Linked DNA regions of Homo sapiens: region 2 is linked to region 1. The links come from fine-mapping of genetic effects on gene expression. Tissue or cell type: whole blood. Region 1 holds a variant in brackets; the other region holds the start of a gene. All regions are shown on one strand. Distances are from middle to middle.

What was found.
Region 2: it holds the start of FAM30A, and the variant in region 1 is fine-mapped to the expression of FAM30A in whole blood (TOPMed, PIP above 0.99).

The regions. Positions count from the first base shown.
Region 1 is chr14:105,843,978-105,849,181 of GRCh38, reverse strand. It overlaps IGH and IGHD. Among named protein-coding and RNA genes, the nearest start is that of MIR4539, 11 kb to the left of the region's middle. The variant C/A (reference allele first, on the strand shown) is at 2,679.
Region 2 is chr14:105,915,254-105,920,457 of GRCh38, reverse strand. It overlaps FAM30A (family with sequence similarity 30 member A), which reads right to left and starts at 2,479. Exons shown (of 6, transcript NR_026800.2): 1 at 1,641-2,479. It also overlaps IGH, IGHD2-2 and IGHD1-1.

The DNA.
Region 1 (5,204 bases):
TTTTAACCCATGACAGTTTGCCCTCCGTTCCCCCCATAATCATGTCCTTCTCACAGGCAAAATCCCTGCATCCCATAGCAACATCTCCAGAACGGCTGACCCCTTCCAGCACCAACTCTTAGTCCACAATCTCAGCGAAATATCACCTGCATCAAGTGTGGGAGAAACCCAGGGTGAGATTCATTCTGGGTGAAATTCCTCTCCATCTGTGGACCTTTGTAACTTGACAAGAAGTTATCTGCTTCCAAAGTACAATGATGGGGCAGGCATAGGATGGACATTCCTATTCTAAAAGGGATACATAGAAAGGGAGAGAGGAGCCATGGGTCCCAAGCAAGCCCAAACCCAGCAGGGAAAGCTGCATTAGATTTAAGGCTCAAGGCTCATCCTCCTGGGTCCGTGCTCCATCTTCCAGGCCCACTGGGGTGACCCCATGCTCTTCGCCCATGGTGGCCAGAGCCCCCACAGCCTCCTCATCTTTGGCTCTGATCTCAAAGTCACCCTTCCTTCATTTTTTCTGGTCTTCTTTCCCTTCCATCCAATTGGCATTGTTTCTTCTGTTTTACAATTCACAAAATCCTTGTCAGCTTCCCATGAAATTCCTGGGGGTTTGAGTCATCAGACAAGAGAGCCCTGCACAGTTATATCCTCAATAACCTTATCTCTACTCCTGGTTTCTGCTGAGATGGTTGATTGGATCCATAAGTCATGATTCCAATCTCTTTAACAAATGGTTGCCCAGACACATCCTTGGCCTTGTTTCCAGAGCATGCTATTGGACAGGCTGAGAATTTTCCAGCTGTTCAAGTTGTGGGTCCTGTTTACTGAACACTTTCTCTCACTTTTTACTATAAGCAGTCAGGAGAAATCAGGTTGTGCCTTCAACACTTTTCTTAGAAATATCCTCAGCTAAAATCCAGGTTCATCACTTGTAAGTCCTACTTACCATAAATAGAATGCAATTCAGCCAAGTGCTTTGCCACTTTCTAACAAAGGTCACCTTTCCTCCAATTTTCAATAACATCTTCCTCATTTCTGTCTGGGGCCTCACCAGAGGCATCTTTAACATTCACATTTCTAGCAACATTCTGTTTGTGACAATTTATGTATTCTCTAAGATGACAGGAGTTTTCTCTATAGCTCTCCTCTTTCTTTCTGAGCCCCCACCAGGATCACCTTCAATGTCCAAATTTCTACCATAGTCTTCAAGGAAATCTAGGCTTTTTCTAACATGCACCTGAAAACTCTTCTCACCTCTACACATTACCCTATCCCAAATTCATTTCCACAGTTTTAGGTATCAATTAAATCAGATAAATAAATCATTACCCTGAATTATTTCAGTTAAGCATGTTAGTTGGTGGCATAAGAGAAAACTCAGTCAGATAGTGCTGAAGACAGGACTGTGGAGACACCTTAGAAGGACAGATTCTGTTCAGAATCACTGATGCGGCGTCAGCAGGACTGGCCTAGTGGAGGCTCTGGGAGGGTGGCTGCCAGGCCCGGCCTGGGCTTTGGGTCTCCCCGGACTACCCGGAGCTGGGATGCGTGGCTTCTGCCGCCGGGCCGACTGGCTGCTCAGGCCCCAGCCCTTGTTAATGGACTTGGAGGAATGATTCCATGCCAAAGCTTTTGCAAGGTTCGCAGTGACCAGGCACCCGACATGGTAAGAGACAGGCAGCCGCCGCTGCTGCATTCACTTCTCTTAAAACTTTGTATTTGATGTCTTATTTCCACTAGAAGGCGAATTGGTCTTAATTGCTTCTCTTAAGCCACCACTTCTAAAGCCAAAATCTGTTTTAGTTTCTTATGAGCTATTGTAACAAAGTACCACAACTGCATGGCTGAAACAACAGAAGTGTATTCTGTCTCATTTCTGGAGGCCAGGTGTCTGAGATCAAGCTGTGGGCAGGGTTGGCTCCCCTGGGTTGGCAGGGAGAATCTGTTCCAGGTGTCTGTCCTGGCTTTTGTTGGTTTGCTGGAAAGCTTTGGTGTTCCTTGGCTTTTGGAAACAGCTCCTCCGCCTCCATCTTTACCTTCACATGGCATTCTGCCTGCGTGCATGTCTGTGTCTAAATTTCCACTTTGCATAAGGACACCAGCCATATTGGGTCAGAGGCTCACCTGCCTCCAGCGTGACCTCATCTTAACTTGATTGCATCTGCAAAACTCTGCTTCCAAAGAAGGGCACATTCTGAGGCCCTACGGGTCAGAGCTTCAACACGTCCATTTATTTGGAGACACAACTCAACCCATAACAAGACCCATCCCTAGTGTCTCACCAGTGGTGCTGTAGAGGGAGGCCTGGCAGGGCTGACATCCCAGAACCTCAGGGAAAAATGAAAACAGCCCAGAGGGGTCCAAGAGGTGGCTCGAGGAAGGGAATTAGGAACACACTGTTCAGGTGGAAGATTCTGAGATGGGCCGTGAATACTGCCTAGGATGTGGAGGGTTGACAATGGGTTGACAATCCTGCTCAGAAAATCCCAGGATAAAGGATGTAAATGGGGAGAAGAGGAGGGTCATCCAGAATTTGGGAAAGCAGGGCGACAGTTTCTGCCCCAAGGGAGAAGGGAAGGAGGATGGGGCCACCGCCACACCAGATGACCTTGCGTACCAGGCCAAAGAACGGGAACACCTGGCCCCACCTGAGCAGCAATAGTCAGTGTGGTGGTGGG[C/A]AGACATGGGTGGAGGCAGGGGGTGAGTAGAAGGTTAGACTAAGACGGAGCACCTGGGGCCTCCAGGGACCCAGGCAAGAACCCTGCACTTGCTCAGCTGCCCTGGGTACCCAGGTCTCCAGGAAAGTGAGGCTGAGAGCCAAGCCCAGCAGGCAGCCACACATTCTGGGACCTGCCACCCTACAGCCTGCTGTCCATGAGTAACACCCCTTACAAGGGGCCAGGTCAGCTCATGGGTTTATCCCAGGCAGCAGAGCCCCTGGGGCCAGGAATCAGGGAGAGGAGCATCCAATCCCACCAGCTCCTCCGGAGCCACTCAGAGGGCCAGACGCATGGCCCTCCACAGGGACCCCATGGCCCCTGCAGGGCAGCTGAGGACCCGTGGCTGGGAGCCTGGGCAGGAGGGTCATACAGCCCTAGGCCCGTTGCTCCCAGGCTTGAGTGCCCCTCCTCCCCTCAGGGGCCCAAGGGAAGTGGGTTCCAGAGAGGTTGGGGGCAGCAGGGAAGGTGGAGGTCCCAGGAATGCCCAGAGGGGCACCAAAGCCTCTGGAGGGAAGACCCCTCCCTTCCAGGAGCTCTCGGCAACAAGAGCCCAGGGTCCACAAAGCCACAGGTCCCACTCGGTTATTCTGACTCACAACACAGGAGCGGCAGCAGGGGCATTCGTGTTCACGGGCCACTTGGTCAGCCCCGCTCACCCTGGGCACTCCTCCTGGGCCCCTTTTCCCTGCCTTCCCTGTCACCCTGCTGCCAGGGTCCTCTGCCCTGCCCTGCCCCTTGTCCTCAGAGCCTCCAGCCTCAGACTCCCACTGTGTCTGTCTTCCAGCACCCACCAAGGCTCCGGATGTGTTCCCCATCATATCAGGGTGCAGACACCCAAAGGATAACAGCCCTGTGGTCCTGGCATGCTTGATAACTGGGTACCACCCAACGTCCGTGACTGTCACCTGGTACATGGGGACACAGAGCCAGCCCCAGAGAACCTTCCCTGAGATACAAAGACGGGACAGCTACTACATGACAAGCAGCCAGCTCTCCACCCCCCTCCAGCAGTGGCGCCAAGGCGAGTACAAATGCGTGGTCCAGCACACCGCCAGCAAGAGTAAGAAGGAGATCTTCCGCTGGCCAGGTAGGTCGCACCGGAGATCACCCAGAAGGGCCCCCCAGGACCCCCAGCACCTTCCACTCAGGGCCTGACCACAAAGACAGAAGCAAGGGCTGGGCTGTGAGGCAACCCCCACCTCCCCCTCAGAGCACGTTCCTCCCCCTTCACCCTGTATCCACCCCTCCGGACCCTCCCCATCTCAGTCCCTCCGCTCCCTCTCTCTGAGGCCCATCTCCCAATACCCAGATCACTTTCCTTCCAGACCCTTCCCTCAGTGTGCACGGAGGCAGCTTGCCCAGCAAAGGTGACTGTCTAGTGGGCTTCCCACAGCCAAGCTCCCACCCCATGCTGCGGCCCCTCCCTTCTTCCTGCTTGGCTGCCTGTGCCCCCCACCTGCCTGTCCACAACCCAGCCTCTGGTACATCCATGCCCTCTGCCCTCAGCCTCACCTGCACTTTTCCTTGGATTTCAGAGTCTCCAAAGGCACAGGCCTCCTCAGTGCCCACTGCACAACCCCAAGCAGAGGGCAGCCTCGCCAAGGCAACCACAGCCCCAGCCACCACCCGTAACACAGGTGAGAAGCCCCTTCCCTGCACACTCCACCCCCACCCACCTGCTCATTCCTCAGCCGCCTCCTCCAGGCAGCCCTTCATAACTCCTTGTCTGAGTCTCCAAGTCACACTTTGGTAAGGAGAGGGACACTGAACGGACCTCTAACAAACACCTACTGCCAGCCAGCCCCAGTCTGGGGGCCAGCAGATGCCAAACAACCAGCAGACTCCCAGAGCAGACCTGGGCCGGCTCCCTGGCCCATGGACCCAGCTCTGCCTCGCTGAGCTGAGGCATGGGCTCTCAGCGCAGCCTCACATAGAGCCACCCTGCCGAGGCAGTCCGGCTTGCAGACTCACAGGTCACTTGGGCCGCAGCAGCCCCTCCCCGTGACCCTCGCCTCCCGCCCGCCCCAGCCTGGCTCTCTCCAAGTGTTGGATCTTGGTGGCCAGCCTGCTTCTCACCCTCACCCTGCCTGCCACCTCAGAATGGCAGGGGAAAGAGGGCCCTCACCAAGAACTTTATCTGAGAAGTCTGAGGCTTGTGACTCTGACCTGCCTGAGATGTCCATGTGGCCGGGGGGACGGGTTCAGTGTTCGGGAGAACTCGGGTACGTGCCTGACTTTCTCTGAGTAGGGCAGGAAGCTGTTAGGAGAAGCAGCAGTGAGGTGGGCTGGACCAACAGGCAGAATGACTGTCCCTCAGCCACCCTCTGGGATGTGGGTCAAGCTCTGACAAAGGCATGGCACAGCCATGGTGGCCCCTGCTTGGATGAGTGGCCACGGTGCCCTCACCCTGGGCCAGAATCTGCCTCCACTCTGCAGGTGCAGAAACACGACATTCCCGTCTCTAAACACACCTAGCTCCTAGGC
Region 2 (5,204 bases), 71 kb before region 1:
GCCCAGCCCCCCGTGCTGGATGCCCCCCCACAGCAGAGGTGCTGTTCTGTGATCCCCTGGGAAAGACGCCCTCAACCTCCACCCTGTCCCACGGCCCAAGGAAGACAAGACACAGGCCCTCTCCTCACAGTCTCCCCACCTGGCTCCTGCTGGGACCCTCAAGGTGTGAACAGGGAGGATGGTTGTCTGGGTGGCCCCTAGGAGCCCAGATCTTCACTCCACAGACCCCAACCCAAGCACCCCCTTCTGCAGGGCCCAGCTCATCCCCCTCCTCCTCCCTCTGCTCTCCTCTCGTCGCCTCTACGGGAAATCCGGGACTCAGCAGTAACCCTCAGGAAGCAGGGCCCAGGCGCCGTTTAATAGGAGGCTTCCTCACAATGAAACTTTTAGAAAGCCTTGACTACAATGATGACCTTGGTGTGGCTGTGAACACTGTCAGCTCCCACAGCTGCTGCAGCAAAAAATGTCCATAGACAGGGTGGGGGCCCGGGGTCGTCTGCTGTCCTGCTCAGCCCACAGCACGCATGGAGGATCTGAGGTGCCACACCTGACGCCCAGGCCAGAACATGCCTCCCTCCAGGGTGACCTGCCATGTCCTGCATTGCTGGAGGGACAGGGGCAGCCTATGAGGATCTGGGGCCAGGAGATGAATCCTATTAACCCAGAGGAAAACTAACAGGACCCAAGCACCCTCCCCGTTGAAGCTGACCTGCCCAGAGGGGCCTGGGCCCACCCCACACACCGGGGCGGAATGTGTACAGGCCCCGGTCTCTGTGGGTGTTCCGCTAACTGGGGCTCCCAGTGCTCACCCCACAACTAAAGCGAGCCCCAGCCTCCAGAGCCCCCGAAGGAGATGCCGCCCACAAGCCCAGCCCCCATCCAGGAGGCCCCAGAGCTCAGGGCGCCGGGGCAGATTCTGAACAGCCCCGAGTCACGGTGGGTACAACTGGAACGACCACCGTGAGAAAAACTGTGTCCAAAACTCTCTCCTGGCCCCTGCTGGAGGCCGCGCCAGAGAGGGGAGCAGCCGCCCCGAACCTAGGTCCTGCTCAGCTCACACGACCCCCAGCAGCCAGAGCACAGTGGAGTCCCCACTGAACCCCACTGAATGGTGAGGACGGGGACCAGGGCTCCAGGGGGTCATGGAAGGGGCTGGACCCCATCCTACTGCTATGGTCCCAGTGCTCCTGGCCAGAACTGACCCTACCACCGACAAGAGTCCCTCAGGGAAACGGGGGTCACTGGCACCTCCCAGCATCAACCCCAGGCAGCACAGGCATAAACCCCACATCCAGAGCCGACTCCAGGAGCAGAGACACCCCAGTACCCTGGGGGACACCGACCCTGATGACTCCCCACTGGAATCCACCCCAGAGTCCACCAGGACCAAAGACCCCGCCCCGGTCTCTGTCCCTCACTCAGGACCTGCTGCGGGGCGGGCCATGAGACCAGACTCGGGCTTAGGGAACACCACTGTGGCCCCAACCTCGACCAGGCCACAGGCCCTTCCTTCCTGCCCTGCGGCAGCACAGACTTTGGGGTCTGTGCAGAGAGGAATCACAGAGGCCCCAGGCTGAGGTGGTGGGGGTGGAAGACCCCCAGGAGGTGGCCCACTTCCCTTCCTCCCAGCTGGAACCCACCATGACCTTCTTAAGATAGGGGTGTCATCCGAGGCAGGTCCTCCATGGAGCTCCCTTCAGGCTCCTCCCTGGTCCTCACTAGGCCTCAGTCCCGGCTGTGGGAATGCAGCCACCACAGGCACACCAGGCAGCCCAGACCCAGCCAGCCTGCAGTGCCCAAGCCCACATTCTGGAGCAGAGCAGGCTGTGTCTGGGAGAGTCTGGGCTCCCCACCGCCCCCCGCACACCCCACCCACCCCTGTCCAGGCCCTATGCAGGAGGGTCAGAGCCCCCCATGGGGTATGGACTTAGGGTCTCACTCACGCGGCTCCCCTCCTGGGTGAAGGGGTCTCATGCCCAGATCCCCACAGCAGAGCTGGTCAAAGGTGGAGGCAGTGGCCCCAGGGCCACCCTGACCTGGACCCTCAGGCTCCTCTAGCCCTGGCTGCCCTGCTGTCCCTGGGAGGCCTGGACTCCACCAGACCACAGGTCCAGGGCACCGCCCATAGGTGCTGCCCACACTCAGTTCACAGGAAGAAGATAAGCTCCAGACCCCCAAGACTGGGACCTGCCTTCCTGCCACCGCTTGTAGCTCCAGACCTCCGTGCCTCCCCCGACCACTTACACACGGGCCAGGGAGCTGTTCCACAAAGATCAACCCCAAACCGGGACCGCCTGGCACTCGGGCCGCTGCCACTTCCCTCTCCATTTGCTCCCAGCACCTCTGTGCTCCCTCCCTCCTCCCTCCTTCAGGGGAACAGCCTGTGCAGCCCCTCCCTGCACCCCACACCCTGGGGAGGCCCAACCCTGCCTCCAGCCCTTTCTCCCCCGCTGCTCTTCCTGCCCATCCAGACAACCCTGGGGTCCCATCCCTGCAGCCTACACCCTGGTCTCCACCCAGACCCCTGTCTCTCCCTCCAGACACCCCTCCCAGGCCAACCCTGCACATGCAGGCCCTCCCCTTTTCTGCTGCCAGAGCCTCAGTTTCTACCCTCTGTGCCTACCCCCTGCCTCCTCCTGCCCACAACTCGAGCTCTTCCTCTCCTGGGGCCCCTGAGCCATGGCACTGACCGTGCACTCCCACCCCCACACTGCCCATGCCCTCACCTTCCTCCTGGACACTCTGACCCTGCTCCCCTCTTGGACCCAGCCCTGGTATTTCCAGGACAAAGGCTCACCCAAGTCTTCCCCATGCAGGCCCTTGCCCTCACTGCCCGGTTACACGGCAGCCTCCTGTGCACAGAAGCAGGGAGCTCAGCCCTTCCACAGGCAGAAGGCACTGAAAGAAATCGGCCTCCAGCACCCTGATGCACGTCCGCCTGTGTCTCTCACTGCCCGCACCTGCAGGGAGGCTCGGCACTCCCTGTAAAGACGAGGGATCCAGGCAGCAACATCATGGGAGAATGCAGGGCTCCCAGACAGCCCAGCCCTCTCGCAGGCCTCTCCTGGGAAGAGACCTGCAGCCACCACTGAACAGCCACGGAGCCCGCTGGATAGTAACTGAGTCAGTGACCGACCTGGAGGGCAGGGGAGCAGTGAACCGGAGCCCAGACCATAGGGACAGAGACCAGCCGCTGACATCCCGAGCCCCTCACTGGCGGCCCCAGAACACCGCGTGGAAACAGAACAGACCCACATTCCCACCTGGAACAGGGCAGACACTGCTGAGCCCCCAGCACCAGCCCTGAGAAACACCAGGCAACGGCATCAGAGGGGGCTCCTGAGAAAGAAAGGAGGGGAGGTCTCCTTCACCAGCAAGTACTTCCCTTGACCAAAAACAGGGTCCACGCAACTCCCCCAGGACAAAGGAGGAGCCCCCTGTACAGCACTGGGCTCAGAGTCCTCTCCAACACACCCTGAGTTTCAGACAAAAACCCCCTGGAAATCATAGTATCAGCAGGAGAACTAGCCAGAGACAGCAAGAGGGGACTCAGTGACTCCCGCGGGGACAGGAGGATTTTGTGGGGGCTCGTGTCACTGTGAGGATATTGTAGTAGTACCAGCTGCTATGCCCACAGTGACACAGCCCCATTCCCAAAGCCCTGCTGTAAACGCTTCCACTTCTGGAGCTGAGGGGCTGGGGGGAGCGTCTGGGAAGTAGGGCCTAGGGGTGGCCATCAATGCCCAAAACGCACCAGACTCCCCCCCAGACATCACCCCACTGGCCAGTGAGCAGAGTAAACAGAAAATGAGAAGCAGCTGGGAAGCTTGCACAGGCCCCAAGGAAAGAGCTTTGGCGGGTGTGCAAGAGGGGATGCGGGCAGAGCCTGAGCAGGGCCTTTTGCTGTTTCTGCTTTCCTGTGCAGATAGTTCCATAAACTGGTGTTCAAGATCGATGGCTGGGAGTGAGCCCAGGAGGACAGTGTGGGAAGGGCACAGGGAAGGAGAAGCAGCCGCTATCCTACACTGTCATCTTTCAAGAGTTTGCCCTGTGCCCACAATGCTGCATCATGGGATGCTTAACAGCTGATGTAGACACAGCTAAAGAGAGAATCAGTGAAATGGATTTGCAGCACAGATCTGAATAAATTCTCCAGAATGTGGAGCCACACAGAAGCAAGCACAAGGAAAGTGCCTGATGCAAGGGCAAAGTACAGTGTGTACCTTCAGGCTGGGCACAGACACTCTGAAAAGCCTTGGCAGGAACTCCCTGCAACAAAGCAGAGCCCTGCAGGCAATGCCAGCTCCAGAGCCCTCCCTGAGAGCCTCATGGGCAAAGATGTGCAGAACATATGTTTGTCATAGCCCCAAACTGAGAATGAAGCAAACAGCCATCTGAAGGAAAACAGGCAAATAAACGATGGCAGGTTCATGAAATGCAAACCCAGACAGCCAGAAGGACAACAGTGAGGGTTACAGGTGACTCTGTGGTTGAGTTCATGACAATGCTGAGTAATTGGAGTAACAAAGGAAAGTCCAAAAAATACTTTCAATGTGATTTCTTCTAAATAAAATTTACAGCCGGCAAAATGAACTATCTTCTTAAGGGATAAACTTTCCACTAGGAAAACTATAAGGAAAATCAAGAAAAGGATGATCACATAAACACAGTGGTCGTTACTTCTACTGGGGAAGGAAGAGGGTATGAACTGAGACACACAGGGTTGGCAAGTCTCCTAACAAGAAGAGAACAAATACATTACAGTACCTTGAAAACAGCAGTTAAAATTCTAAATTGCAAGAAGAGGAAAATGCACACAGCTGTGTTTAGAAAATTCTCAGTCCAGCACTGTTCATAATAGCAAAGACATTAACCCAGGTTGGATAAATAAACGATGACACAGGCAATTGCACAATGATACAGACATACATTCAGTATATGAGACATTGATGATGTATCCCCAAAGAAATGACTTTAAAGAGAAAAGGCCTGATATGTGGTGGCACTCACCTCCCTGGGCATCCCCGGACAGGCTGCAGGCACACTGTGTGGCAGGGCAGGCTGGTACCTGCTGGCAGCTCCTGGGGCCTGATGTGGAGCAGGCACAGAGCCGTATCCCCCCGAGGACATATACCCCCAAGGACGGCACAGTTGGTACATTCCGGAGACAAGCAACTCAGCCACACTCCCAGGCCAGAGCCCGA